Homo sapiens: one gene and its partners. The protein of the gene in region 1 purifies or fractionates together with the protein of each later gene. This does not show direct contact. Each region holds a gene or a part of one and is shown in the gene's direction. Other genes may lie near its edges. The genes, in order: EIF3B, EIF4E, EIF3H and EIF4G1.

What was found.
Region 2: the proteins of EIF3B (region 1) and EIF4E purify together in Homo sapiens (affinity purification with western blotting; 5 studies listed by BioGRID and IntAct, with this or other methods). This does not show direct contact.
Region 3: the proteins of EIF3B (region 1) and EIF3H purify together in Homo sapiens (affinity purification with mass spectrometry; 12 studies listed by BioGRID and IntAct, with this or other methods). This does not show direct contact.
Region 4: the proteins of EIF3B (region 1) and EIF4G1 purify together in Homo sapiens (affinity purification with western blotting; 7 studies listed by BioGRID and IntAct, with this or other methods). This does not show direct contact.

The regions. Positions count from the first base shown.
Region 1 is NC_000007.14:2,364,734-2,371,903, forward strand, and holds part of EIF3B (eukaryotic translation initiation factor 3 subunit B), read left to right. Parts: intron 1-1,583; coding exon 1,584-1,715; intron 1,716-1,791; coding exon 1,792-1,858; intron 1,859-2,200; coding exon of another isoform or gene 2,201-2,224; exon of another isoform or gene 2,225-2,239; intron 2,240-2,265; coding exon 2,266-2,312; intron 2,313-4,738; coding exon 4,739-4,949; intron 4,950-7,043; coding exon 7,044-7,116; intron 7,117-7,170.
Region 2 is NC_000004.12:98,926,093-98,933,853, reverse strand, and holds the start of EIF4E (eukaryotic translation initiation factor 4E), read left to right. Parts: upstream 1-4,720; 5' UTR 4,721-4,741; coding exon 4,742-4,759; exon of another isoform or gene 4,760-4,881; coding exon of another isoform or gene 4,882-4,959; intron 4,960-7,761. UniProt on the Homo sapiens protein: Acts in the cytoplasm to initiate and regulate protein synthesis and is required in the nucleus for export of a subset of mRNAs from the nucleus to the cytoplasm which promotes processes such as RNA capping, processing and splicing.
Region 3 is NC_000008.11:116,745,798-116,752,967, reverse strand, and holds part of EIF3H (eukaryotic translation initiation factor 3 subunit H), read left to right. Parts: intron 1-5,841; exon of another isoform or gene 5,842-7,170.
Region 4 is NC_000003.12:184,310,053-184,317,676, forward strand, and holds the start of EIF4G1 (eukaryotic translation initiation factor 4 gamma 1), read left to right. Parts: upstream 1-4,553; 5' UTR 4,554-4,622; intron 4,623-5,111; exon of another isoform or gene 5,112-5,436; 5' UTR 5,437-5,493; intron 5,494-5,710; 5' UTR 5,711-5,744; coding exon 5,745-5,804; intron 5,805-6,019; exon of another isoform or gene 6,020-6,079; coding exon 6,080-6,166; intron 6,167-6,660; coding exon of another isoform or gene 6,661-6,681; intron 6,682-7,268; coding exon 7,269-7,445; intron 7,446-7,624.

The DNA.
Region 1 (7,170 bases):
TTTGGGAGTGAGTTGAAATAACATGTCCCTTTAGCCCTGAATGTGTATTCCTAGAAATAGGATTTTGTTAGTGTGACCATAGTGTGGGTACTGACTTCAGGGATTTACCATTCATTTAATACTTCAATGTATTGCCATATTCTGATTTTGTTACTTGACCTAATAATGTTCTGTATAATACTTACTTTCCTTCAGTTCAGGATCTAGTCTAAGGTCACGTATTTTACAGATAATAAATTGTCCTTCCTCTATCACCCAGGCTTGGCGCCACCCAGTGGCACCATTGCAGGCTCATTGCAACCCCAGCCTCCCAGGTCAAGCGGTTCTCCCACCTCAGCCTTCCTGAGTAGCGGGGACCGCAGGCACACGCCATGACATATGGCTAATTTTATTTTTTGTAGAGATGGGGGTCTCACTTTGTTGTACAAGGTAGTCTTGAACCCCTGGGCTCAAGTGATCTCCTGCCTTGACCTCCCAGAGTGCTGGGATTACAGGCGTGAGCCACCGCACCTGGCCGAGCCGTGATTTTTGATCTAGCTAATCCGGCTGTCGGAGGCCTGCTAGGGAAAGGGGCGGTTGTGGGAGGCAGTGTGAGGCGAGCTGGGGCCACTCTAGGGAAAGGGACAGTTGTGGAAGGCAGTGTGAGGCGAACGGGGGCCACTCTAGGGAAAGGGGCAGTTGTGGAAGGCAGTGCGAGGCGAGCTGGGGCCGCTCTGTTTTCGCCCTCATGGGTTGTGTCTGCCTTCCCCTCTGGTGTTGTAAGGGACCGTCTGTTACACACTTTGTGTGAACTGAGTAAGCAGGTGCAGTAGCTCCAGACAAGCCAGCAGTCAGGTAAATCATGGCTGGGAGGAGCCCCCAGGCTCTGAAGTTTCTATCAGACCTGTGCTGGCTTTCGAACTGGATGGGACTTGTTTTTTTGTTTGTTTGTTTGTTTGTTTGTTTTGTTTTTTTTTTTTTTGAAACTGAGTTTCATGCGTCGCCCAGACTGGAATGTAGTGGCACGATACCAGTTCACTGCAACCTCCACCTCCCGGGTTCAAGCTATTCTCCTGCCTCAGCCTCCTGAGTAGCTGGGATTACAAGTGCCTGCCACCACGCCCGGCTAATTTTTGTATTTTTAGTAGAGACAGGGTCTCACCATGTCGGCCATGGTTGGCCAAGCTTGTCTTAAACTCCGGACCTTGGGTGATCCACCCACCTCGGCCTCCCAAAGTGCTGGGATTACAGGTGTGAGCCACTGCGCCCAGCCGTATTTTTTTAACTTGTTAGTCTTTATTAAACATGGGTAAAGATAGAGTTCCACACTGCGCCACCCTCTGGATCACTTAGCAGCCTTGTGTGGGATCGGTGAGATCTTCTGTGCTGATCTTGGAGAAACCGGAGCGCCTGCAGCGTATTGACACCAGAATGAACAAGCGCCGCTGCTTCCCGCTTCCGCTTGGGTCTCTTGGGGCCGGGCAGTGTGGGGTTTGGGGAGAGAGCTGGTTCCGCGAGTTCTGACGGCGTGTTCTGGCCGCACAGACAGACTGTGATCCTCTCGTGAGAGGAGGATAGTGTACAGTGTTGCCCTTCTCTTCTAGGTACCTGGTGACCTTTAGCCCCCTGATGGACACGCAGGATGACCCTCAGGCCATAATCATCTGGGACATCCTTACGGGGCACAAGAAGAGGGGTTTTCACTGTGAGAGCTCAGCCCATTGGCCTATTTTTAAGTAAGTGGACCATTGTAACGAGCTCTGTAGCCTTTGTCTTTTCATGGGAATACCCTGGCACTTTTGTTTTTCTTAGGTGGAGCCATGATGGCAAATTCTTTGCCAGAATGACCCTGGATACGCTTAGCATCTATGAAACTCCTGTAAGTGGCCTCAGTGATGGCAAACGCCCCGTCCGGTCCTTGCTTGTAACCGGGGTGTGGTGCCTTTCCTTATTTGTGCTAGAAGAGGAGGAGGAGGTTTCACAGATGCATAGGAAAGGCCTGTCTCCTGTGCCTTTTTAACTGCCCCTGCTCTGGGCAGAGCTCTTCAGTCACTCCTGCCCACCTGGCGCAGCCGTGGGAAGTCCTGGATGGGAGTTAATGCAGTGGGCTTCAGAACTGCAGTTCTGGGTGGCGGGTGGGTGGATGGGTTCACTGTCACGCTCTGTGTGCACTGCCCCCTAGGCAAACTCACATCAGACTCTTGTTTCCTTTTGTAAAAAGTTAGGTGTGTTTCTGAGACACTGACATGATTTGACTCAACTGCAGCCTTCCTTTTTTTTGGGCAGTCTATGGGTCTTTTGGACAAGAAGAGTTTGAAGATCTCTGGGATAAAGTGAGTATTCTTATCAGTTTGGTGTCTTAGTGTGTTCAGGCTGCTTAACACAATACCAAAAAAAAAAAAAAAAACACAATACCATAGGCTGGGTGGCTTATGACAGCTGAGATTTCTTTCTCCCAGTTCTGGAGCTTGGGAGCTTGAGGTCAGGGTGCCTGCAGACTGTCTGGTGACGGCCCACCTCCCTCCTAGTGGACAGCCCCTCGGTCCAGCCTTCCCTGGAGGAAGGCCTCCGTGGCCTGTTCTGTAAAGTCTCTCATCTCATTCCCAAGGGCTTCCCCCTCAGGACCTCCCACCCCCCAAAAGGCCCCACCCCATGCCGTCACCCCAGGGGGTTAGAATTTCACCCTGTGAATCTGGGGGACACAGACGTGGTCCATTGCAGTTGGTTTCCTTTATTTGCTGTCTCTCCTTTAGCACTCAGCTTTTTGTTGTTGTTGTTAGAGACAGAGTCTCGCTCCGTCAGGCTGGAGTGCAGTGATACGATCTTGGCTCGCTGCAACCTCCACCTCCTGGGTTCAAGTGATTCTTCTGCCTCAACCTCCCGAGTAGCTGGGACTACAGGCATGTGCCACCAAGCCCGGCTAATTTTTGTATTTTTAGTAGGGATGGGGTTTCACCATGTTGGCTGGGCTGGTCTCAAACTCCTGACCTTGTGATCTGCCCGCCTCAGCCTCCCAAAGTGCTGAGATTACAGGCGTGAGCCACCATGCCCAGCCTGTCACTCAGTTCTTAACCAGTTGGAGAGAAAACGGTGAGTTTGTTCTTTTTTTAAAATTTTTTTTTTTTTTTTTTTTTTTTTTTTTTTTTTGAGGCAGAGTCTTACTCTGTCTTGCAGGCTGGTGTAGAGTGGCGAGATCTTGGCTCACTGCAATTTCCACCTCCTGGGTTCAAGTGATTCTCCTTGCCTTAGACTCCCAAGTAGCTGGGACTGCAGGTGCCTGCCACCATGCCTAGCTAATTTTTGTATTTTTAGTAGAGATGGGGTTTCACTGTGTTGGCCATGCTGGTCTCAGAACTCCTGACCTCAAGTGATCTGCCCACCTCAGCCTCCCAAAGTGCTGGGATTACTGGCGTGAGCCACCACACCCAGCCATTTTTAAATCTTTTTTGAGACAGAGTCTTACTCTGTTGCCCAGGCTGGAGTACAGTGGCGTGATCTCGGCTGACTGCAGCCTTCACCTCCCAGGTTCAAACGATTCTGGTGCTTCAGTCTCCTGAGTAGCTGGAATTACAGGCGCGCAACCACTACGCCCAGCTAATTTTTTGTATATTTTAGAAGAGTCGGGGTTTCACCATGTTGGCCAGGCTGGTCTCGAACTCCTGACCTCAAGTGATCCGCCTGCCCGCCTCAGCCTCTCAAAGTGCAGGGATTACAGGTGTGAGCCACCGCGCCCGGCCTAAGGTGAGTTTGTTCTGGACACAAGGATGGAGGCTTGAGTCAGTGGGCAGCAAGGCTGCTCAGCATTGGGCCCGCCACCCTTGAGGCACCACTTCAGTGACCCCTTCCCGTGCCTAGAAATGAATTTTCAAGGCCAGAGCCTTGAGTCGGCTTCCTTCCATCTACCTCGTCTTTGATCTAGAAACTGAGGAGGGTGGGGTTTCCAGCCTTTTAAGGAAAAGAGGGGACTCTGCTTAGGTGAAAGGTTTTCCTGGTACTCTTCCATCCGAGGCAGGGTTTGGGGAGCCTTCGGCTCATTTTCACCAGCAAAGAATGGGCACGTTTTTATTTATCGCAAAACTTGGGACTGGTCAGTATCACGGCAGTGAACTTCCAACAATCCAAGGACATTGACGTTTCTTCTTTCGTTTTTACATTCTTGGGCAAAATTATGGCTTATAAAATGAAAAGACCAGGACGTTGGTTCTCAAAAAATGCAAAACAGCACATAGCGTGTATAAAGATGTTTTTCATGTAGGTGAGCTCAGGAGCCGTTCGTTACAGCAGCTCTTCTGTAGAGTAGTTGATAAAGTGGAGGGAGCTGCCCTTGTTCTTGCTCATTCCTTACACTTGATTTGCCATTTTCCCCATTTGCACCTTAATTAATCTTTAGATGACATGTAGCCAGATCCGTCAGCCTAAAACTTATTTGCCTCAAAGCAGCAGTGTGCGGTGTCTTAAGAGTGGGCTGACGGAGCCCAGGCTGGAGTCCATATGAGTCTGTGCGTGATGGTGGGGTTGCTAATATTCTGTCTGCATTCACTCCTTGTCACAGTGAGCACAGTAGTGCCACAGGGTCCTGGCGAGGACCTATGAAGCTGCGCGGCATGCCCAGAGCAGTGGCTGTGCAGAGGGAGCGCTCAGCGTCAGCTGTGACAGCATTGAGCTTCTATATAGCAAATGAGTTGTTCTATTCTCTTCTGCTTTTCAGTTTCGTCATCACTTGGTCTTTGCTTTAACATTTTATTTTCCTGTTCTGCAGAGACTTTTCTTGGTCTCCTGGTGGTAACATAATCGCCTTCTGGGTGCCTGAAGACAAAGATATTCCAGCCAGGGTAACCCTGATGCAGCTCCCTACCAGGCAAGAGATCCGAGTGAGGAACCTGTTCAATGTGGTGGACTGCAAGCTCCATTGGCAGAAGAACGGAGACTACTTGTGTGTGAAAGTAGATAGGACTCCGAAAGGCACCCAGGTATGTAGATTCCCACAGGAACTGACGATTCCTTATCCTGAGCTCTGAAGTGGCCACCGTATTGTTTGGAGGGTGTTAATGGATTTTTTTTTTTTTTTTTTTTTTTTTTTTTTGAGATGGAGTCTCACTCTGTCACCAGGCTGTAGTGCAGGAGTGCGATTTCGGCTCACTGCAGTCTCTGCCTCCTGGTTTCAAATGATTCTTCTGCCTCAGCTTCCCAAGTAGCTGGGACTATAGGCGTCCACCACCACGCTTGGCTAATTTTTGTATTTTTATTAGAGACAGGGTTTCACCATGTTGGCCAGGCTGGTCTTGAACTCCTGACCTTAGGTGATCTGCCCGCCTTGGCCACCCAAAGGGCTGGGATTACAGGCGTGAGCCACCGTGCCTGGCTGAGAATATTATTTTCTTTCTAAGCACAAGGAGTAGTATACTCAAGATTTATTTTTTTATTTTTTTATTTTTGGTGGTTGATCATTTAATATTTATTTTATCAAAAAATTGCCTGAGTTGGCTGGGTGTAGTGGCCCATGCCTGTAATCCCAGCACTTTGGGAGGCCGAGGTGGGCGGATCATGAGGTCAAGAGATTGAGACCATTCTGGCCAACGTGGTGTGAAACCCCATCTCTACTAAAAGTACAATAATTAGCTGGGCGTGGTGGGAGGCTCCTGTAGTCCCAGCTACTCGGGAGGCTGAGGCAGGAGAATCGCTTGAACCCAGGAGGCAGAGCTTGCAGTGAACAGAGCGAGATTGCGCCACTGCACCCCAGCCTGGCGACAGAGCCAGACTGCGTCTCACAAAAAAAAAGAAATTCCTGAGTTTTCCCTCTAATAGAAGTATTCTTCTTTCTTTTATGTTAAGAAAGCTTTAATTGACATGTAGTTCACATGCCTGAAAACACCCCTTTAGAGTGGTGAACTGGTTCAGTGGTTTTTCGTGTGTTCAGAGTTATGCAGCCACCACCACTCATTTCAGAACGTTTTCATCGGCTGGGTGCGGTGGCTCCCCCGGGGTGGGAGGGAGGATAGCTTGAGGCTAGGAGTTTCAGACCAGCCTGGGAAACACAGTGAGACCCCATCTCCACAGATAATTTTTAAAAGATAGGAAAAAGGCCGGGCACGGTGGCTCACGCCTGTAATCCCAGCACTTTGGGAGGCTGAGGCGGGGCATCACAAGGTCAGGAGATCGAGGGTTTAGTAGAAACCCCGTCTCTACTAAAAATGCAAAAAATTAGCCAGGCGTGGTGGCGGGTGCCTGTAGTCCCAGCTACTCGGGAGGCTGAGGCAGGAGAATGGCGTGAACCCGGGAGGCGGAGCTTGCAGTGAGCCGAGATTGCACCACTGCACTCCAGCCTGGGCAACAGAGTGAGACTCCGTCTCAAAAATAAATAAATAAATAAATGTTTTTGTCACCCTACAAAGAAACAACATACCTGTTAGCAGCCTCTCCGCCCAGCTCCTGGCATCACGAATGTCTATGATTTCCCTATTCTGAACACACAGCTGGAATCGGATACTATGCCACCTTCTGTGTTTGACCTCCTTCACGGAGCACAGCGTTCCCACAGCTGGTCCACGGTGCTGAGTGTCAGCAGTAATCTCTTGTTGGGTGGACCCCGTTTCTTGGCCTCCTTCCTCTGTTGATGGACATCAGGGCAGTTTTCCCTCAGACTCCTCGAGTAGGGCAGGACTTCTTGAAGGTTATGGCTACAGGACACCCCACTGTCTGAAGTGGTTTACCCAGCCCCATTGGTGTGCCTTTAGGGCCCTCAGGACCCTGGCCTGCAGCCTGCAGTGTGGACCCTGGGACTGCTTGTGCCCAAGTGTGGCGGGCAGGGCGGCTCCTGGAGGTGGGATCTGGGTCAGAGTTACTTCATGCATGTCCAGTGGCTTCCAGTAGACGTGGTGCCGGCAGTTCTCCAGCCTTAGAACCGTCTTCCATCCTGAGGGCTGTGGCTTTCATCACTGCACATGCTCGTGTGTGAACCAGGCATGCACACTGAATCTTTCATTGTGACGTTGATCTTTGATTTAAACCTTTTCTCATATTTTCACTGTCCAGAATGTCACCCCTTCCCCCTTTTTTTTAAACAGGGTGTTGTCACAAATTTTGAAATTTTCCGAATGAGGGAGAAACAGGTACCTGTGGATGTGGTCGAGATGAAAGGCAAGTTGTATTTTAGTCACTTTGAGGCGAATGGGGCCTACGTGCTGTTTTACT
Region 2 (7,761 bases), on another chromosome or scaffold:
AGGTGGGAGGATCGCTTGAGCCCCAGAGTTAGAGGCTGCAGTAAGCCAGGATTGTGCCACTGCACTCCAGCCTAGTAGTATAGGAATACCCTGTCTCTAAACAAACAAACAAAAACTCTTTGCACCCTATAATTGTAAAAGCATAAAATGTTGGCACACGGATATATTAGAATAGCAGAAGAGGTTTCCCTTAAAAAATTTTTTTCTTTTTCTTTTTCTTGATTTTCTTTTAAAAATCAAGGTGCCTTTTTAGCCAGTAGGTAGTGCCTCAGTCTCATAAAAATCACCAAGGAGAGAGTAAACAAAAAACTAACTAGAATAATAAAATAATTTTTTAAATTCCAATTCTGCTCCAATCTTTTAATATTCAAAATTCCTTGGTCATGTTTGCGTACATCCCATGTTTTTAAGCAATGTCCTGAGTAGGTAATGGGAATTGGTGTCTCTCAAACTGTAAAATTAAAATAAGGGTTCACAGTGGCTCAGGCCTGTAATCCCAGCACTTTGGCAGGCCGAGGCGGGCAGATCACGAAGTCAGGAGTTCGAGACCAGGCTGGCCATCTCTACTAAAAATACAAAAGTTAGCCAGGTGTGGTGGCACGCACCTGTAGTCCCAGCTATTTGGGAGGCTGAGGCAGGAGGATCGCTTGAACCCAGGAAGCAGAGGTTGCAGTGAGCCAAGATCTGGGCAACAGAGTGAGACTGCATCTCGGGAAAAAAAAATTACATTTGAGTTTTCCCCAAATATTTGATAGCAATCTATCTACAAATCATCAATGAGCTAATATTTTAGTAGTAGGGTCAATCAACAACTAATTAAATAATGTTTAACAGCAAGTTTAGAGTTAGGGTTATGAAGTGGCCTAAAGAAAACCAAAGCAGAGTGAGGGGATAAAGAGTAATGGAAACAGTAATTTAGATAGGGTGGTCAAGGAAGCCTTCCTTCAGGAGATCACATTGGAACAGAGGCCTGGATGAAATGAGGGAAGGAAGTATATGATTCGCTCATTCATTATGTGAATGTGTGCTGGTTATGGTGCTTGTTAACTGCATCCTCTTGGTTCTTAGTCACACCTCTTTATATGGGTACTGAACTATTTATATTTCTATGACTTAGTACGCCAACCAGATTTTACAGTCGGGGAAGGAAGTGCCTGTACTTCCTGTGTCCTTTAAATATCCTCCACTGGTTACATAGTTCCCATTACTAACTTAGTACTTGTTGGATGGTTTCTGGTCAGTTCTGTAAATGAACTTGGAATTACAAGTCCTTTGAAGAGCAATAAAGAATAATAGAGAATAAATAGAGAAATAAAACATAAAATTTCAGCTCTATATATTTAGGATTGGCAAAAACAAAACAAAACAACCACATACACACATACATAAAAACCTAATCGTTAAATCTTTGAAATGGTAGAATCTCAAATAGGCAAAGACACATTAATGGTCATAAAACACACACAACAAAGTATATACAAAAATGGAGATTTTCCTGAAACTCTGTGCTTGAAAATTATAAAGAAAAATTGTTGAAAACTATGTAAAAAATGGAAAGAAACTAAACCATAAAGAATAGAGCATCCATAAGTATTGTAAAAGTATGAGTCTTGGTTGACAAGAGGGAGTTTTTTTTTTTTTTTTTTTTTTGAGACTGAGGGAGTGCAGTGGCGCGATGTCCGCTCACTGCAAGCTCCACCTCCTGGGTTCACTCCTTTCTCCTGCCTCAGCCTGCCGCGTAGCTGGGACTACAGGCGCCTGCCACCATGCCCAGCTAATTTTTGTATTTTTAGTAGAGACGGGGTTTCACCGTGTTAGCCAGGATGGTCTCGATCTCCTGACCTCGTGATCCGCCCGTCTTGGCCTCCCAAAGTGCTGGGATTACAGGCATGAGCCACCGTGCCCGGCCCGAGTTTTTTGATTAACAGAAAATTTAATAAAAATGGAAACTGTTGTTTAAAAAAAGTTTTAAGAACATCACTGGCTTTCAGTCCTATAGGTATTTTCTTGCCAATCTCATTGATTTTTTGCTGTTATATAACAGCTTCATGAAAATAGGACATCTGGCCAGGAATGGTGGCTCATGCCTGCAATCTCAGCACTTTGGGAGGCCCAGGTAGGGGGACCGCTTGAGCCCAGGAGTTTGAGACCAGCCTGGGGAACATAGCTAGACGCTCCTGTCTCTGCAAAATATAAAAAAATTAGCTAGGCATGGTGGCCCATGCCTGTAGTCCTAGCTACTTGGGAAGCTAAGGTGGGAGGACCCCTTGAACCCAGAAGGTCAAGGCTGCAGTGAGCCATAATCATGCCACTGCACTCCAGCCTGGGTAACAGAGCAACACCCTGAAAAGACAAAAAGAAAGGAAGGAAGGAAGGAAGGAAGGAAGGAAGGAAGGAAGAGAGAGAGAGAGAGAGAATGGGAGGGGAGGGGAGGGAGGGGAGGGGAGGACAGGGGAGGGGAGGGGAAGAGAAGGGAAGGGAAGGGAGGGGAAGGGTAGGGAAGGGAGAGGAAGGGTGGGGAAGGGTGGGGAAGGGGAAAATAGGACATCTATGCTGTCTTTTTCTCTTCAAAGAAGGTAACCTGACACCACTTCTAACCAGCAGAAAATAACAACGCGGTCAACAGAATTATTTTGGATAGTCTAAGTAACAGTAGATAGTCTCTGTAAGTAGAAATCCACTTATCCGTTTATTATCATTTTTTTTTTTTTTTTGGAAATGGAGTCTCACTGTGTCGCCCAGACTGGAGTGCAGTGGCGGGATCTTGGCTCACTGCAACCTCCACCTCCCAGGTTCAAGTGATTCTCCTGCCTCAGCCTCCTGAGTAGCTGAGACTACAGGCAGGTGCCACTATGCCTGGCTAATTTTTGTATTTTTAGTAGAGACAGGGTTTCACCATGTTGGTCAGGCTGGTCTCGAACTCCTGACCTCAGGTGATCCGCCCGCCTTGGCCTCCCAAAGGGCTGTGATTACAGGCGTGGGCCACTGCGCCTGGCCTGTTAATTCTATCTACTTTAAAACCTAGTAGAGCTAAGCCCACTAGACAAAAGCTTTCATTAATCACTTCTGATATTCAGGTAAACCAAAACATATGAACAGGCAATGGCTTTGAGTTCTCATACAGCCTCAATTATGTGTTAGTCAACTCAAGCATCCATTATGTACTCAATAATAGGTATGACACAGCTCTGGACCTCATTAACACTATAAGCAGACAGGCACAGGCAGCCTGCATACACTCCTTTTCCTGGTGTCAACATTATTTAAAAGCATGGGAAATAGTAATGAGACAGTGTCTTCTTCATTAGAACCTTAGGAGTCTACTAGATTTCTTCATCTCTATTTGTTGTTATTAGTAGCCAAACTGTGCAAAAAACACGGTCTTGAGAAATGACAGCACAGTATCTTAGAGGGAAAGGAAATGTAGGATGCCAGTGTGGGGACAAATTTCTGATTGCCAGTGATTGTTGTGAGCATAACAATAATTTCATGAACATTAAAGCCTCTATTGAGGGCAGCTGCAGTTGTAAAGGAAAAAAAATGGTCCTGAACATTTAAAACTACACTGGTGTACATCATAATCAAACAAAGTAAACAGAAAAAAATTTAAACTTTGCTAAAAAAAAAAAGCAGAAGCACTTGATCTTTAGGAAGGCACGCAGTTGCTTATTATGAATCATTTCTAGAGTCCGATGCATTTTCAAAGCCGGTTACAGTCATTACGAAGCACACCCTTGTGAGGTAAGTGTATCATCACCTTTGGTTCATAAATAAAAAAGCTGAGACGCCGAGCGATTAAGTCACTCGCCTAAGGAGAATGAGTCAACGTCAAGAGTCATAGTTGACCCGGCCTAAAGACTCCAGACCATCAGTCCAGGGCTTAGTCAGCGGGGCCCGGAGTGGCTTCCCTGGCTGGCATCTGGACTTAGGCTATTTCCGTGCACGTAAAAGCGGAATATTGGAACGGTTGCACAGAACTTCCAAATAATTTTTACCGCCACGCAAGATTTAGCCCTGAGGTCTTAATCTCAGGATTTGGGACAGTAAAAGCTGTCGTCCCTCCCCCTCGTCCAGCCGGTGGCAAGCGGGTACTGCGGGCGGTTCCGTCCGTCCCCTTTCGCAGAAATGGCAACGAATGACCACCAGCATTAGCTGAGCCAGGGGACGTGGGAGGGTTGATTGCCTAAACGACTCTGCATCGCCGCCTCTTTTTGAAACTAAGAGAAAATGGTGGGAGATCAAAAGAAAACTAAATAAACACACAGGCAACTTGTCCTGGGACCTCAACTAAGCAAATGAAGCCTTATTGTGTGTGCTGAGCCTGCAGTTCCCAACCTTCCGGGGAAGATGGGAGGACAGGGCGACAAAGGGCACAGTAGGCTTGCCTGGCAGTAAGTGTGACCGCAGCTATCCAGGCGGAAGAGCAGAGGACTGAAACCACCCTCCAGCAAGCGAGTGTCCGCCGCGTTGAGAACCGCGCACCCTACCCATCGGCCACGTGACCAGTCCTTTTTAAAAAAAATTTCTTTACCTTAAAAAAAAAAAAAAAAAAAAGGTGGGGGAGAGACTCCACTTCCCAGAAGCCTCTCGTTACTCACGCAGCCGCAGTCTTGCGCAGGTGCCGCCAGGGCCAAACGGACATATCCGTCACGTGGCCAGAAGCTGGCCAATCCGGTTTGAATCTCATTTTTTTCCTCTTACCCCCCCTTCTGGAGCGGTTGTGCGATCAGATCGATCTAAGATGGCGACTGTCGAACCGGTGAGTATTGCCTTTGGCCCCCACCCCCACGGGTCCCCGCGCTCCGTCTTCCTTCTGACTGGGGGACTCCGCGGGACGGCGTTCCCGGCGCGCACTGTACCCCTTGCCGCCCCTTCCCCTTCATGTTGGACCTGACCTCCCGCGGACAAGTGGGGACGTCCCGGAGGATGGCCGAGGCGGCGTGTAGCGCACACTTTCTGGTGGGGGCCCGAGAACTGGGGGAGCGGTGTGGGGGAGGGGCGGCGTGGCGCCTCCTGCGGAACCGCGAGGTGTCTACAGGGTGGAGGGTAGCTGGGGTTCTGGGCTGGGTATGCGAGGATGGTGTCTTCATGATAGGAAGGCGCAGGGCCGGCTCCCAGCGAGTACTGGGATCCGCAGGCAGGGTGGGCGGCGAGCCGGCCTGGAGTGAGATGGAGGAGGGAGCCCTGGAGCAGCCTTTCCCTCCCTGCAGAACCCCAGCTCCGGGGCTCGGGTGCGGGGCGCGCGCACGTCTTCCTTAGACCGGTGGACTGGGGAGCTGGTGGGCGAGTGTTGCCGGAGGGTGGGTTAGGCGGGAGTGGTGCCGCGGCACGCGCGGAGGAGCTTCGACCTCGCTTAGGGGAGTTGAGAGGGGCGAGCGTCTGTTAATCCAGCGCGCCGGAGAGTTGCCGGTGTTTGCGCCAGGGGAAGCGAGAAAGGTCTGGGGTGGGAAGGAACACTCGTGTGTCACGGTGAAGCTCTCCAAGTAGAATGAGGGATGGTGGTGGTGAGAAGGGGTATCACATTGTCCTCGCCCCTCCATGCTTGGGACTGGGCTGTCATGGAGGAGGGAAGGGGGAGGAGCGAGGCCTACAGATCGCTGTAGCCGGTCGGCTTGCCGGCCGGACCTGCTGCATTTCACACGCGCCCGTCTTCCATTCATTCATCCTTTCCGCGTAGTGCGCACGCCTCAGAGAATGCGAATGGGTCTCAATCCCTCTGTTCTTCCGAGTCTTTATCTCCTGGAAGATTTCTGAGACGCAGTTTATTGGAAATAGAAACTTTTAAATTTACTTTTCCATTTGACTTTTTTTTTCTCTTTATCTATGCTACAGACTTTCATTTCAATTTAGGCACCATTTTAAACTTAACTGAAGCAAGCTGGTCCCAGGGTAGGTTTGTAGTTAATCTTTAAGCAGAGGGTATATTTTTCATAATTTGGGTTTGCCAGGACTGGCTCACTGAAACTTCTGGGCCCTGTTGCCTTTTTAGAAACGACACAGCTAAGTGAAGATATCTTGTGTGCATAATGGGGTTTATTAGCAATCAGAAAACCTTTCACACTCTGGAACCAGCTCTAGACCTTGGTTGCCAGATACTTTTGTGTATCTTTTCATGGTAGCTTGTGGTTTTGCTAATGGTTTACCAGTTTGCTTTGACTTTTAAAGACTTTTTTTTTTTTTTTTTTTTTTTTTTTTTTTTGAGATGGAGTCTTGCTTTGTCGCCCAGGCTGGAGTGCAGTGGCGTGATCTCGGCTCACTGCAACCTCCGCCTCCGGGTTCAAGCGATTCTCCTGCTTCAGCCTCTTGAGTAGCTGGGATTACAGGTGCGCACAACCGTGCCTGGCTAATTTTTGTATTTTTAGTAGAGACGGGGTTCCACCATGTTGGCCAGGCTGGTCTGAAACTCCTGACCTCAAGTGATCCTCCCGCCTCAGCCTCCCAAAGTGCTGGGATTACAGGCGTGAGCCACAGCACCCGGCACTTTTAAAGACTTTTATAAAACTATTTCAAAAACTCTTATAGACTACACAAAGGCTTATTTTTCATTGCGTTGGTGTAAACTATCCTTACCTTGTCAAAATTCAAGGCAGCTTCTCTGCTTGCTTACTTGTTTTTTTATTGGCACCAGTTTTCATTTATGTTCCTGGGAATTAAATTGACTGAAAAACTCATAAGTTGTTGCTACAGTTAACTGACTTTAGGACATTAATATTACATAACACTAATGAAGAATAAGTATGTAAAATATACATTTTAAACCCCTTGACAGGTTCTGATGTCCACTTTTGTCTAGATCTGTTCCTACCCCACTACACTAGTGTCAGTAAAAAGCATTACATCTGGTAATAGGGGCAAGGCTACGAGACTGTAAACTATAAAACAATAAGGAGTTCTGTGAGGTTTCTGTCACATTTAGGTCCCTTGAGTTTTGCAGAGTTTATGCAGTTTTGTTTCAGCAGCACAGAGCGGAACTGCAAAGTGATGAAGGACTATATTTTGAGTTAGTAAATATTAATAGCTCCTGATATATCCAGGGTGTTGTACCAAGTGTTCTTTAGGATACAAAGTTATACAAGATGTGAGTCTTGTTGAATGTAAACCCTTAAGGAACTTAATTCCTAGGGATGTGGTTAGTGATACAGTATTTGTTCTGGTACAGACTTTGGGAGATTTGGATGTTATGTTTAAATTTGGGGAGTAGGGGAACCTAAAAACAAAGTGTGTGAAGCTGGAAACTAAAGTATTTTGAGAATATATGTAAAATAGTATCGAAGTGTTTAGTTTTAGTGAGAAATGAATTTTTTTTTTTTCGATACTGACTTTCACTCTTGTTGCCCAGGCTGGAGTGCAATGGCGCGATCTTGGCTCACCGCAACCTCCGCCTCCTGGGTTCAATCGATTCTCCTGCCTCAGCCTTCCGAGTAGCTGGGATTACAGGCATGTGCCACCACGCCCGGCTAATTTTGTACTTTTAGTAGAGATGGGGTTTCTCCATGTTGGTCAGGCTGGTCTTCAACTCCCGACCTCAGGTGATCCGCCCGTCTTGGCCTCCCAAAGTGGTGGGATTACAGGCATGAGCCACCGCGCCTGGCCTGAAAATTTTTAGTACTTTTAATATACCCTTGTGCACAGGCTAGTTATGTGGAATTATTTTTGACAGTTTTAAATAGTTGGATTTTGTGTGTAGGGGTGCAGGATCTTGCTCTGTTGCTGGGGCTGGAGTGCAGTGGCGCGATCATAGCTCACTGCAGCCTCAAACTC
Region 3 (7,170 bases), on another chromosome or scaffold:
AGAATCATCCATCTTGAATACTATCTCCACATGGATGATAGGTATACCCACGTTTGCCCAGATACAATTTAAAAAAAACTCCTTCCTTAAACTCTTCTCTTCTCTCTCTCTTTTTTCTTTTCTTTTCTCTCTCTCTTTCCTTCCTTCCTTCCTTCCTTCCTTCCTTCCTTCCCTCCCTCCCTCCCTCCCTCCCTCCCTCCCTCCCTCCCTCCCTCTTTCTTTCTTTCTTTCTCTTCTTTCTTTCTTTCTTTCTTTCTTTCTTTCTTTCTTTCTTTCTTTCTTTCTTTCTTTCTTTCTTTCTTCATTTCTGTCTTGATGAACAGTGTTACTCTTAGGAAAGCAATATTACATACTAGCCAAGAGAATCTTGACGACAGACTTGGATTCAGATCCTTATTCCAGCAGTAAGCATGACCTTGGGGAAGTTATTAAATTTTCTAGGCCTCAGGTGTATCCTTTGTAAAATGGGGATGATGATAAAGTAGTAACTCATAAGGGTTGTGAGAATGAAATTCCGAGGTATTTAAAGTGTTTAGTATAGTACCTGTGTCATCGTAAACACTCAGATTACTGTGTCTTTACCACTCTCATCCTTATTAATGTTTCTCAAATCATTTCGAATGCTAACTTTGCTAATGTAGATTGGAATTGTAGAAAGAGCACTTCAGTGCTCCTGGTAATCAGGAGACATGCATTCCAGTCTGCATCCACCAGTAACTAACAACACTTCTATGATTGTTTTACTCCAAAGGTACATTTTCTCATCCACAAAATGATTGCCACTATCCCTATCAATTTTCATGGTTTATGGTTTCTTTCTTTTGCTTTCATACCTGAATCCTGAGGGTTCTTATTGGTGTGTGACCCCAGTCAATCACTATCCTTCCTTTTAGGCCACTTACTCCTTTCCTTTTATGTTTCTTCTCCATCTGTGCATATTGGAGTGCCTCATGGTTTAGGTTTTGGCTTTTCTTTTAGTCTCTGCTTGACATAGGTAGTGTAACGAAGTTGATAAAAGTACATGCTCTGGAGCCAGACTGCTTGGATTTGAATCCCAGCTCTGAAATTTGCTGCATGACATTGGGCAAGTCTTTGTGCCTCATTTTCCTCATCTGAATTGTTTTGAGACTTTAAATGGATTGAATATATGTCAATAACTAGAACAATGTCTGGGACAGAATAAGTCACCATTTAAGCTTTGCTGCTGCTTTATTTGCAGTAATTATAGTAGTATTCTTTAAGGTATTCTTATCTGTGCTCACGGCTTTAAATATTTATATTCTAATAAGTCCTAGATTTATATTTCTGCCAGTAATGGCTCTTGAATGCCTCTTTTGAATACCCATTGCCTGTTTGACGTCACTATTTGGATATCTCATAGGCATCTCATATTTAACATGTACAAAATAGAATTATAGACTTGTTCTTCTCCTTACTTTCCATCACAGCACCCTATATTTCTAGAATTTTCCACAGCCTGTAACTATCTTGTTTGTTTTCTTCTTTGTTTTCCTCATCAGAATGTATGCTACTGAGGGCAGGGACTATGCTTTTTCACCTGTTTTATCTCCAGTGCTGAACCTGTTAATTCACAAAGTAGGATAAATGAATGAGTATGTATTCCATTTTATTATTTATACTAATTTATGTTCTAATATCTTATGCAGGTTATTTTAATATTGTTTTCCCCTGCCTTCTTCAGTCTACCATTCATACTTTTATTTTATTTTATTTTATTTTATTTTATTTTTTTTTTGAGACGGAGTCTCGCTCTGTCGCCCAGGCTGGAGTGCAGTGGCGCAATCTCGGCTCACTGCAAGCTCCGCCTCCCGGGTTCACGCCATTCTCCTGCCTCAGCCTCCCAAGTAGCTGGGACTACAGGCGCCTGCCACTACGCCCGGCTAATTTTTTGTATTTTTAGTAGAGACGGGGTTTCACCGTTTTAGCCGGGATGGTCTCGATCTCCTGACCTCGTGATCCGCCCGCCTCGGCCTCCCAAAGTGCTGGGATTACAGGCGTGAGCCACCGTGCCCGGCCTCATACTTTTATTAAAACGTTTATTTAACGTGAACATTCAGATTTTAACTTCTTTCCTTAGATGTTTTCAGTGACTTTCCATTGAATTGAAGGACCAAAATGTTGTCCTTGTTTCTTGCATTTATGTTCAGGTTTATTTCCTTTCTTTCCAAGCTTTGTAGGAACTGTACATTCCAGCCCCTCAGACTACTTAGTTTTTTCTTTAATAAGTCATGCTAAAGGCCAGGTGTGGTGGCTCACGCCTGTAATCCCAGCACTTTGGGAGGCCAAGGCAGGCAGATCACACGAGGTCAGGAGATCAAGACCGTCCTGGCTAACATGGTGAAACCCTGTCTCTACTAAAAATACAAAAAATTAGTCGGGCGTGGTGGCGGGTGCCTGTAGTCCCAGCTACTCAGGAGGCTGAGGCAGGGGAATGGCATGAACCGGGGAGGCGGAGCTTGCAGTGAGCCGAGATTGCACCACTGCACTCCAGATTGGGCGACAGAGCGAGACTCCGTCTCAGAAAAAAAAAAAAAAAAAAAAAAGTCATGCTAAAGACAGACCTAGAGTCACATCCTTATTCAAAGCAGTAAGCATGACCTTGCTTTTGTTCATGAAGTTCTTTCTCTTTGAAATTGTTCTCTTTCATCATCACATATTGAATAAAAAATGTGACTTAATCGACTTACTCTGTTTTTTTAAAAATTCTCCATATAGTTTAACTTGAATCTGTATACTCCAGATGTATTCTGTTCTTCATTCATTTAACAAATATTTATTGATTGCCGACCACATGCCAGGTCTAGCCCTGCTACATGCTGGGGTATATTGCAGTAACCTATATAAGATATTATATAGGTGAGCAAGGTAGAACCCAGTCCCGACTCTCATGACCATTCTCAGTCATATATAGATGTAGATGAACCCAGAGATTAATCTCATCCTATGTTTAGCCTGATGTTTTAACACATTTGTTCCTTCCTGGCACATTGATAGTGGCCAAGACCAATTTTTCTTGTATTTTTGAACCCTTCCTTTCCTACCTTTAGACCTGTTTCATCACTTCCTCTGTATCTGTAATGTAGCAGTCCCTCCACAGGGCTTGTTTTCCAAAGAAAAGTAAGCCCTCCACAGGGCTTGTTTTCCAAAGAAAAGTATCATTTGGAGGAGCAAAGTTATAAGCCTACCTAAGCATGTCGTAAAGCTGTTCAAAAATAACTCAGAGCTAGTCTTGTGGATGGAAATGTAGTGCCTGAGTCACATTCTGCTTAAAGTTGTAACAAATACAGATGAGTTAAAAGAAAAAAAACAAAAATAAAGAAAGAATGGGTCTTCATTCTGTCAGGTGGTCTCATTGTTCCTAGACAAGATCAAGCTAATTCTTCCCGTTAAACTTTTCATGTTGAACCCACTTTGTTCCCTAGAACATTTGAATTTTACCTTTCTTATGTTCATTAGACCTTGCTATTCAAAGTATGATCCATGTCCAGTAAGATGAGCAATGTTGGCTACACTTGAGTTTGTTAGAAATGCAGACATACGTATCACAGAATCTCAGGCCCCTCTCCTGACCTACACAATCAGGTGATTTATAGCATTTTACTGTTTGAGAAGAAGCTTGCTCTCTTCCTTTCTCTGAGCTTTTTAATGACAGCTTGTATCATTCACCTTGGTATGTGATCCATACTGTTAGTGATTTACTGTTAATATATTTTCCCCTTCTCATTGAGATGATAACCCTTTTGAAGGCTGAAGTATAAAACATTTGTCTCCTCCATAATTCAGTGCTTGAAACCCATTGCTATTGAAATTTCTTACCTTTTAAATTTTGTTTTCCCCTTTAAGTTATCTTATTAGATACCTTATTCCCCTGGTTTTGTAAGTAAGGTAGAGTATGTTATTAATAAATAGAAAAGTATGAGTTACATATACAGTCAGCTCTCTATATCTTTGGATTCTGAATCCAGCAATCTCACATCCATGGATTCAACCAACCATGGATCGAAAATACTAGGAAAAAAACAACTAAAAATACAAATAAAAACCAATACAGTATAATAATTATTTACATAGCATTTACATTGTATTAAATGTTATATGCAATCTAGGGATGATATATAGGAAGATGTGCCTAGGTTATATGCAATAACTAATGCTACACCATTTTATATAAAGGACTTGAGCATCTGCGAATTTTGGTATCCAGTTTGGTCCTTGTTTCTGTCTGAAACTCTTTTTACTTGTTGCTTATTTCTTCACACTAGAATATCAGCTTCCTGAAAGTGGCACCCATGTCAGGTTTGTTCACTACAGTATTTCTAAGGGTCTAGAACAGTACCTCGTGTATAGAAGGCACTCAGATGTTGTGAATGAATGAATATACTCCTGTTGTGTGGAAATTTTCTTGAAAATCAATCATGAAGAAACTGGGTTAGTAAATGCTTGAGTGTTGGTGAGAAAAGAGCACACAGTTGAGGATAAGCTAGTTAGCTTTCTGGGCTTGTTCATATTTCTCCATCTTTTTATTTGTTGATTTCTTATCTGTTTGAAAAATCACTAATATTAATTGGACACCTATTATAAGACCCTGTACAGGGATGTTTGGTTAAATTTTGTGTTGTTTGGTTAAATTTTTTGTTAAATTTTAGATGTTGTGATCCTCACAACAGCTTTGGGGATAAATGTTATCACTACCTTACCTACCTGATGGTTATTCAAATCTAATGGAAAAATTTTGGTGGAAGTACTTTGTTTTTTATTTTGTTTTGTTTTGTTTTTGTTTTTTTTTTTGTTTTTGAGACAGAGTTTTGCTCTTGTTGCCCAGGCTGGAGTGCAATGGCATGATCTTGGCCCACTGCAACCTCTGCCTCCCAGGTTCAAGTGGATCTTGGCTCACTGCAACCTCCGCCTCCCAGGTTCAAGCGATTCTCGTGTCTCAGCCTCCCAAGTAGCTGGGATTACAGGCATGCGCCACCACGCCTGGCTAATTTTTTGTATTTATAGTAGAGACGGGGTTTCACCATGTTGGTCAGGATGGTCTCGAACTCCTGGTCTCAGGTGACCCACCCACCTTGGCCTCCCAAAATGTTGGGATTACAGGTGTGAGCCACCGCAGCAGGCTGGTGGGAATGCTTTGTGAGTTGAATCAAATACTTCGAATTTGTAATGCCAGGCTATCACATGTGTCACTGTAGATTTTTTGTGATACTCTTATGAATTTAAAGAGACTGGACAACAGCTTGTTTAAATTCCATTGAAATGGAAGCTCTTCTCTGAGATCCTGGTCTGAAGTATAATACAGTTTGGCCTTTTAATGTTTTAACAACAAAAAAAATTATATGACCCTTGGCCTCTTCTTCCAGTTTTCTGACTTGAGTGGTGCATACGTAAGTTGTTTGACATGTGAGATAATTTTTTCAGTCAGATAATTTGAAATCCTTTCAAGCACCAAAACTTGCACATTTTAGCTATTTTAATTATATGTGTTTCTGAAGTGTAATACATAATTTTCTGCTGCTTTAGTCAGAGAACATGGAACACAATCTAACCATGTTTTGATGGCATAGTATTATCATTAAGAACATGTTATTGGGCCGTGCTCCCGCCTGTAATCCCAGCACTTTGGCAGGCTGAGGTGGGCGGATCACCTGAGGTCAGGAGTTCGAGACCAACCTGGCCAACATGGCGAAACCCCATCTCTACTAAAAATACAAAAGAAATTAGCCGGGCATGATGGCGGATGCCTGTAATCCCAGTTACTCAGGAGGCTGAGGCAGGAGAACTGCTTGAACCTGGGAGGCAGAGGTTGCAGTGAGCCGAGATCACACCACTGCACTCCAACCTGGACGACAGGCAGAGACTCTGTCTCAAAAAAAACAAAAAAACAAAAAAACATGTTATTGAACCAGACAGGACAGTAGATCTGTCAAGAAATCCCTTCGGGTAGTCTGTTATTTCTATAATAAATGTCCCCTGTTGTTGAACTTTAGGTGCCTTGAGTGGTTTATGTTTCTAGTTGGTGCCTTTTTTGGTTGTTAAATTTATCTGTTTCTTATCCCCTTGCTTTTCAGGTTTTTTTTTGCTGTGAGTGAAAAACCAGTTATGCAGGATTATCTCTAACCTGAGTATTTGTGAGTGAGGATTAAATTCGTTATGCAGTCTGACATTTTGATTGCTTAGTTATATTTTTTGCTTAGGCAAGTAAGATGTTATTGCTTACAAATAGTAACTTTTTATAATAGAAAAATCATTTAGCGTACATTATTATATCTTGGTAGCTCCAGGAACTGGGCGGACTAGTATTATCTGGATTATACATGTGATTCTCCCACTCCAAGAAGCTGGGTGGCTTTTCAAAGACATAAAGTGAATATATCCTGGAGCTTGAATTCAGATCACATCTAGCCATCCTTGACTCATTTTCTTTTACATTTTATAGCAGCTTCATATACTTGAAGACCCCAGTAGTTATTCTGTGTTATGTGACAGGTACTGTTTTAAGTATTGTGTATTTATTATGGCATTGAAGCAATACAACAACTCTTTGATATAGGAACCATCATTATCCCTATTTTATCAATGGGGAGACGTGGGTACAAATAGTTTATGTGATTTGATTAATGTACAGATGGAGGAAATAGAAGTTAAGGTGTGTACAGAATAGTTAATCTAGTGCTTCTTGTTTGAGCATTGGGAAATATGTTTTTCAGAACTCAGGTGTCTTACAGACTTCTAACTTTAAAATGTATGAGAAAACATACATTAGAATCTTTACGTTTGATAATCAGTCATATTGTAGAAGATTTGTAGCTATAAGAAGTCAATTTAGTAAATATTCTGAAGTTTGGAAAAATGCAACCTTAAACTGCTGAGTTCACATATTAAGATACTGGGGATCAATAGTAAAGAAAATCAGCATATTAAGGAGCATTGGGAAGAGTACTGGTACGTGTCCCTAAGTAAGTTAGTTTACCTGCATTGGGTGGTAATTCTAAGTCCATCTGACTTTTCCTTTTTTTTTTTTCCTTTGAGACAGAGTCTTGCTCTGTCGACCGGGCTGGGGTGCAGTGGCCCGATCTTGGCTCACTGTGATCTCCACCTCCTAGGTTCAAGCGATTCTCGTGCCCCTCAGCCTCCCGAGTAGCTGTGTGC
Region 4 (7,624 bases), on another chromosome or scaffold:
CTTGGGCTAAGGATGCCCAAGAGTGGGCAGCCTCATACTTTTCTAACTTGACTTACGTGCTACTGAATGAAAAGGACATCTTTACCTCCCGCAACCATCTGTCCCTCTTGGGAGGCTGCTATGAGGAATTTGATCATGTTAACATCTACTTCTAGGATGTCCTTGTAGAAAGTGGATTCAAGAAGGCTTGACCCTCAGCCTCCCAAGCAGGTAAGGTAGGGCTACAGGTGTGTACCACCACTTCTGGCTTTTTTTTTTTTTTTTTGAAATGGTCTCACTCTTATCACTCAGTCTGGAGTGCAGTGGCACAGTCATAGCTCACTGTAGCCTCAAACTCCTGGACTCAAGTGATCCTCCTGACTCAGCCTCCCAAGTAGTAACTAGGACTATAGGCATGACCCACCACAGCTGGCCTACTTTTATTTTTGTGGAGGTGGGGGTTTTGCTGTGTTGCCCACGCTGGTCTCAATCTCTTGGCCTCAAGGGATCCTTCCACCTCAGCTCCCAAAGTGCTGGGATCACAGGCATGAGCCAGTATGCCTGGCTATTTATTTATTTATTTATTTTGAGACAGAGTCGTGCTCTGTTGCCCAGGCTGGAGTGCAGTGGCGTGATCTCGGCTCACTCTGCGTCTGGGGTTCAAGAGACTGTCTGCCTCAGCCTCCTGAGTAGCTGGGACTACAGGCATGCGCCACCATGCTCTGCTAATTTTTGTATTTTTAGTAGAGACGGGGTTTCACCATGTTGGCCAGGATGGTCTCGATCTGACCTTGTGATCCACCTGCCTCGGCCTCCCAAAGTGCTGGGATTACAGGTGTAAGCCACCACACCTGGCCCAGTTATTTTATTACTAAATTTTTTTAGAGACAAAGTCTCACTTTGTGGCCCAGGCTGGAGTGCAGTGGCATGATCATGGCTCACTGCAGCCTTGAACTTCTAGGCTTAAGTGATTCTCCCACATCAGCCTCTCAGGTAGCTGGGATTACAGGCATGAGACATCAGCAATTTTGGATTGAGTCATCTTGGCAGCCTGTATAAAAAGGTTGAAACAGGATTAAGGAATCCCTGTTGAGCCCCTTTATGGTTCCTGCCATAATCTTCAAGTTAGCATGTGTGATGTGATGAGCCTCTGTTATTATATAATGTGGATATAGTAGTTGCCTTACCTGATTTCCAGTGGTGGTGATGTTAGAATAAAAAGTGATTTGTAAACTAAAAAGAATGATTCTCTCCCAAATTGTGATTTAGGTGATTGTGCTTTAGAATAAGACAGTTTCATAGTGGCTTTTAACCTTTCACCTTTAGTTCTTCATTCATCAGTGAATAGCAGTGGAGCCTTACTCTGCATCAGACATTCGTCTAATTTATGGGGATGCAAATACAGAAAAAAACCCCTATGCTCAAAAAGTTTAATGAAATGATGAAAACAACTGTGATCGATACTTACCAGGGTGTGAACAAGGTACCCTGGTATCACTGAGATGGGGCCTAAGTGCCTGGGGCAATCGGGGGACTTTGAGGAAGCTTATATCCTTAGAGGAAGATAAGTTTGTACAGAGGAAAAGAGGGCAGAATATAGCTAAGGGAGTAGCAAAGGCAAGAAGGAGGAAAAGCTGTTTTCAGAAACTTACAGATAATTTGGTTTGGCTAAATGTATAGGGGCCAGGGAAAAGGGTGGTAGGAGATACAGCTGGAAATTCAGGCTCAGACTAGGTTTACAAGAGCTTTGTTGTGCTAAGAATTTGACAGTATCTTTCAATGGGGCCCACTGAATGAGAGCAGAAAAGTGACATGATCAGCTATCTGGGTGAGAAAGCTAACCCTGGAGGACAGGAGAGCAGGCAAGGAAAATGAATGCTTGAACTAAGGCAGTTGAAATGGGGACATAGGGAAGGGTAGAATAGTTATTTTTTAAAAGATAAGATCAATAGGACTTGATTTTGATCCAAATACCAGTAAGACCTGGTGTCTGATTAGATGTAGTGTGTGGATGGAGAAGGAATATAGGATGAATCCCAGATTTTCAGGTTAGGCACTATCTATTACGTAAGCAACAATATATTTGGGGGACTTGATTGAGTAGGGAAAGTTAACAAATTCTGGCCAGGTAATAAGTATCAGAGTTTGGATGAAAACTCAAGCAATCTGACCTGTGGATTTGGCTGTAGATGATGGTCCCTTCTGGCCTCTGTCAGCTTTTTCTTTTTTTTTTTGAGACGGAGTTTCGCTCATGTTGCCCAGGCTGGAGTGCAATGGCAGGATCTCAGCTCACCGCAAGCTCCACCTCCCGGGTTCAAGCAATTCTCCTGCCTCAGCCTCCTGAGTAGCTGCGATTATAGGCATGCGCAACCATGCCTGGCTAATTTTTGTATATTTTTAGTAGAGACGGGGTTTCTCTATGTTGGTCAGGCTGGTCTCAAACTCCCGATCTCAGGTGATCCGCCTGCCTCAGCCTCCCAAAATACTGGGATTACAGGCGTGAGCCACCGCCCCCGACCGGCTGTCAGTTTTAAGATTACTTCTCTTCTGTCCTTATTCTTCCATCCTTACGCTTTTGCCCCTCCGTGGGAGTGTCTGCTCTTTTTATATTTTATTTCATTTATTTATTTATTTATTTGAAACAGAGTCTCACTCTGTTGCCCAGGCTGGAATGCAGTTGTGATCTCAGGTCACTGCAGCCTCCAACTCCCAGGTTCAAGCGATTCTCCTGCCTTAGCCTCTCCACTAGCTGGGACTACAGGTGCTTGCCACCACATCTGGCTGATTTTTCTATTTATAGTAGAGATGAGGTTTCACCATGTTGGCCAGGGTGCTCTCGAACTCCTGACTTCAGGTGATCTGCCTGCCTTGGCCTCCCAAAGTGCTGGAATTACAGGCGTGAGCCACCGTGCCTGCCTTTATTTTTTATTTTTATTTTTATTTTTTGAGACAGAGTCTCACTGTCATCCAGGCTAGAGTGCAGTGGCGCAATCTTGGCTCACTGCAAGCTCTGCCTCCCGGGTTCAAGCAGTTTTCTGCCTCTGCCTCCTGAGTGGCTGGGACTACAGGCGCACGCCACCAGACCCGTCTAATTTTTTGTATTTTAGTAGAGATGGGGGTTTCACCATGTTGGCCAGGATGGTGACCCCGTGATCCGCCCTGACCCCGTGATCCGCCCGCCTCGGCCTTCCAAAGTGCTGGGATTACAGGCGTGAACCACCGCGCCCGGCCCATGATCCTTTTAAACGACAAATCTCATACTACTTGCCTAGTTAGAATGTTTCTAACTTTTTAAACGACAAATCTCATACTACTTGCCTAGTTAGAATGTTTCTATCCTTTTAATTTCCTTTGTTATAGGCCTTTCAAGGACCTAATCTAAATTCTTTTCAAAGCCTGCATAATTCGTGTTGTATCACGATTTACTTAGGCAGGACTGAGTCTTTAATTTCTTTTTTTCTTTCTTTTTTTTTTTTTTTGAGATGGAGTCTCACCCTGTCGCCAGGCTAGAGTGCAGTGGCGTAATTTCGGCTCACTGCAACCTCCGCCTCCCGGGTTCAAGCAATTCTCTGCCTCTGCCTACCGAGTAGCTAGGACTACAGGCGTGCGCCACCAGGCCCAGCTAATTTTTTGTATTTTAGTAGAGACGGGGTTTCACCATGTTGGCCAGGATGGTCTAGATCTCCTGACCCCGTGATCCGCCCGCCTCGGCCTCCCAAAGTGCTGGGATTACAGGCGTGAGCCACTGCGCCCGGCCCATGATCTTTTTAAACTACAAATCTCATACTACTTGCCTAATTAGAATGTTTCTATCCTTTTAATTTCCTTTGTTATTGGCCTTTCAATGACCTAATCTAAATTATTTTCAAAGCCTGCATAATTCGTATTGTATCACGATTTACTTAGGCAGGACGGAGTCTTTAATTTCTTTCTTTTTTTTTTTTGAGATGGAGTCTCGCCCTGTCGCCAGGCTAGGCTAGAGTGCAGTGGCACAATCTCCGCTCACTGCAACCTCTGCCTCCCGGGCTCAAACAATTCTCCTGCCTCAGCCTCCCAAGTAGCTGGGACTACGGGTGCGCCACCACGCCCGGCTAATTTTTGTATTTTTAGTAAAGACGGGGTTTCACCATGTTGGCCAGGATGGTCTCGATCTCTTGACCTCGTGATCCGCCCACCTCGGCCTCCCAAAGTACTGGGATTAAGGTGTGAGCCACCGCGCCCCGCTTATTTTTTTTTTTTTTTTGCCGAGACTTTGATTTCAGTTTCTCAGCCCTCAACCAGCACTTCGCCTTGTACTTAGCATGCACTCAATAAATGGTTGCTTAAAATATGAATGAACTAAAGAATCGCGGAACAGAGAGAAACACAGAGGGGAATCGGTCTGGGAGTTTCAAAGTTCGGGAGGGGACACGGGGGCGGGCTGTGGCTGTCACGTGACGGGGCGGGGGCAAATCCCATGTGCTCGGCGGCGCAGATCGCCCGGCGCGGCTCCGCCCCCTGCGCCGGTCACGTGGGGGCGCCGGCTGCGCCTGCGGAGAAGCGGTGGCCGCCGAGCGGGATCTGTGCGGGGAGCCGGAAATGGTTGTGGACTACGTCTGTGCGGCTGCGTGGGGCTCGGCCGCGCGGACTGAAGGAGACTGAAGGTAAAGCCGCCATGTCCGGGCCCGACCCGGCCCCCCCACCCCCTCCCCCCGCATCCGCCGCCATCCGGGCCGGGACCGGCCACCCTGCGCCGCCGCCCCGGCGCCCTGGCCCCGCGGCCCGACCCAGGGCCCCGGCCCGCCAGGGTCCCGATCCCCGGCCCACGTGTGCCTGGCCCGGCCGGGCCTGGCTGCTGGGTGGGGGTGGGGAGCGCAGGGCCGGACTATGCGGGCCCCGCGGGCTGGTAGGGCGCCGGGTTCGTCGCCGCGAAATGCCACCTCGGCCTGACCCGAGGAGGCCCGGCAGCCCACGGGCGCAGGCACCACGGCTCCCGGCCCGCCGCCCCCTCCCCCCTTCGCGGCCAGGCCGCCGGGAAGTGACACGTTGTTCTTTGGCACTGGCCCGCGCTGCGCAGGGAGGGCGCAGGGGAGGGAGGCGGTGGCGGCGGGCAGGGAGGAGCCCCCGGCCCCGCCCGCCCTCCGGGCCGACCCTCACTTGCCTGAAACCGGCTCCTCGACGGCCGCCGCCCGCCTGGCCTTTTAGGGCCTGACTCCCGCCCTTCCTGGCCTACACTCCTGGGCGGCGGCAGGCCTAGCTTCTGGCCCAGTGCGGGTTCCCCGGCGGCAGGCGTATCCTGTGTGCCCCTGGGCCAGGCCCGAACCCGGTGTCCCCGGGTGGGGGGTGGGGACGCCACGGCCGAAGCAGCTAGCTCCGTTCGTGATCCGGGAGCCTGGTGCCAGCGAGACCTGGAATTTCCGGTCTGGTTGGTCTGGGGCCCCGCGGAGCCAGGTTGATACCCTCACCTCCCAACCCCAGGCCCTCGGATGCCCAGAACCTGTAGGCCGCACCGTGGACTTGTTCTTAATCGAGGGGGTGAGTGAGGGGTCTGTTTCAGTAGGTCAGGGGTTGGTTGGAAGTGATGCGGGTTTGACAGCATGTTGGTGGGGACAGGCTGTATCTTTTCTGCTTCACCCTCTTGGCATCTCTGGGACTCCGTATGGGACCCAGCCCTTGCATCAACCCTTTCACCGCCCCATTTGCCTTAAGCTTGGGTCCCTTCCTCTTCCTGAGCGCCACTCTTTCCCAACAGGTGCTGGGGGGACCCTGATGTGGCACCAAATGAAATGAACAAAGCTCCACAGTCCACAGGCCCCCCACCCGCCCCATCCCCCGGACTCCCACAGGTAATTAGGGAGGAATTAGCAGGGGTGGGGGTGGGGGAGACCAGGCAGTCTCCAGCCTCTGGATCTTCCTACCCCCATCTGTGTCAGGGCAAAGTGCAGCCGCCTGCTGCCAAATTGAGACAGGGCCCCTGGGCTGTCCCCGGGGGCTGTCACGGGGAGGGGGTATGTGGATTGTTAAGGCTCTTGCCGCAGATCTGCTCCCCTTATTTCACCAGCTTGGGTTTCTGCCCCACCTGGGCTTCCCCTCTTGCTGAACTCTGGTCTCCCCTCTTCAGCCAGCGTTTCCCCCGGGGCAGACAGCGCCGGTGGTGTTCAGTACGCCACAAGCGACACAAATGAACACGCCTTCTCAGCCCCGCCAGGTGAGGGGCTGTGGGGAGGGGAGTAGGGGACCTGGGTGGGAGCAGTGGAAAGCTTTGGCCAGTTTAGGTCTAGGATGGAAACTGGAGGCCCCATACCTGGCCTTAATCCTCTGTGTTCTTTCATGCGGCTCTGCGCCTTGCCCTGTTGATTACTCACGGTGGCTGGTCCCTTGGATAGTATGTTGTCAATGAGGGTGGCATTACTGGGATCCTAGTGCCTCTGAGAATTGGGGGCAGTGCTTTGGGCCCTGCTGCCAGCTCTTGCTTTCCTATTTGCTCCTTTTACCGGAGGCTGCTATTGCTCTATTGCTCTCTCTGCTTTCTCTTTGGACTGTGGTGAGGTAAACACTCCAGCTGGTCCTTGCCTTTCTCTGTTCCCCAGCTTCTTCCTTACTAAGTGGGAGGATTCTTGTCCTGTCTTATTGCCTTCATTCCCTCCCCCCGCCATCACCTTGGGGGTAATTCTCTTCTTTCCTATCCCCATGTGCTCTCAGGGAGGATTCAGGTCTCTGCAGGTAATATCCCTTTCCCAACCCTGGACAGTCTTCTGGTCTCATCCTTACCCTCCACCCTAGTCAGGGGCTAGACACAGGGAATGGGGATCTTCAGGGTAGTGACTTGTTTGGTGTCCAGGTTCTCAGTTGGAGGCCGAGTGATGCATGTTAGGGGCTACATCTTGAAGAACGCGCATCTGGGGACTGGGATGCTGTTGCATGTTATGGTTAGCTCCTCATTACATGCTGGTGGAGCAGTGCATGCTGGGGATATGTTGCCCGAAAGGGCCTTACTTAGGCATGATGCATCTCGGTGTTAGGAAGCCTCTGCAGAGGGGTAGTTTGGTAGAGGTGACGTGTGTATGCATGGCAGTGAGAGAGTAAATCTCTGCAGGATGCAAAGTGTACATCTGAATTTGGAGGTTTGGAGGGCATGTGTGTGTACAAGAAGCCGCTTAGCCATTTGGTCAAGTGGTCTTGGAAGGATTGGTCGCCATGTTCTGAAGCCCACAGTACTTCTTTCCAGGCTATAGAGACATTGTGGAGTGGCAATTTTTTGTCCACTTCCTTCTCTTTACAATGCCAACTGCTTTCCTCCCTCCTGACAGCACTTCTACCCTAGCCGGGCCCAGCCCCCGAGCAGTGCAGCCTCCCGAGTGCAGAGTGCAGCCCCTGCCCGCCCTGGCCCAGCTGCCCATGTCTACCCTGCTGGATCCCAAGTAATGATGATCCCTTCCCAGATCTCCTACCCAGCCTCCCAGGGGGCCTACTACATCCCTGGACAGGTGAGGCTGGGGGCTTGGAGCCTAGAAGCCACAGACCCCTATACCTCTCACTTAACTCACCCTGACCCTCCAGTTCCATTGCTTTTCCAGAGGTGGGACTTCCTTCTGGTCATTGCCCAGAGTTGGCTTGTCTTGTCTTGACCTATGTTCTTTTTGGAGTCTGATATGGAACTCATAGC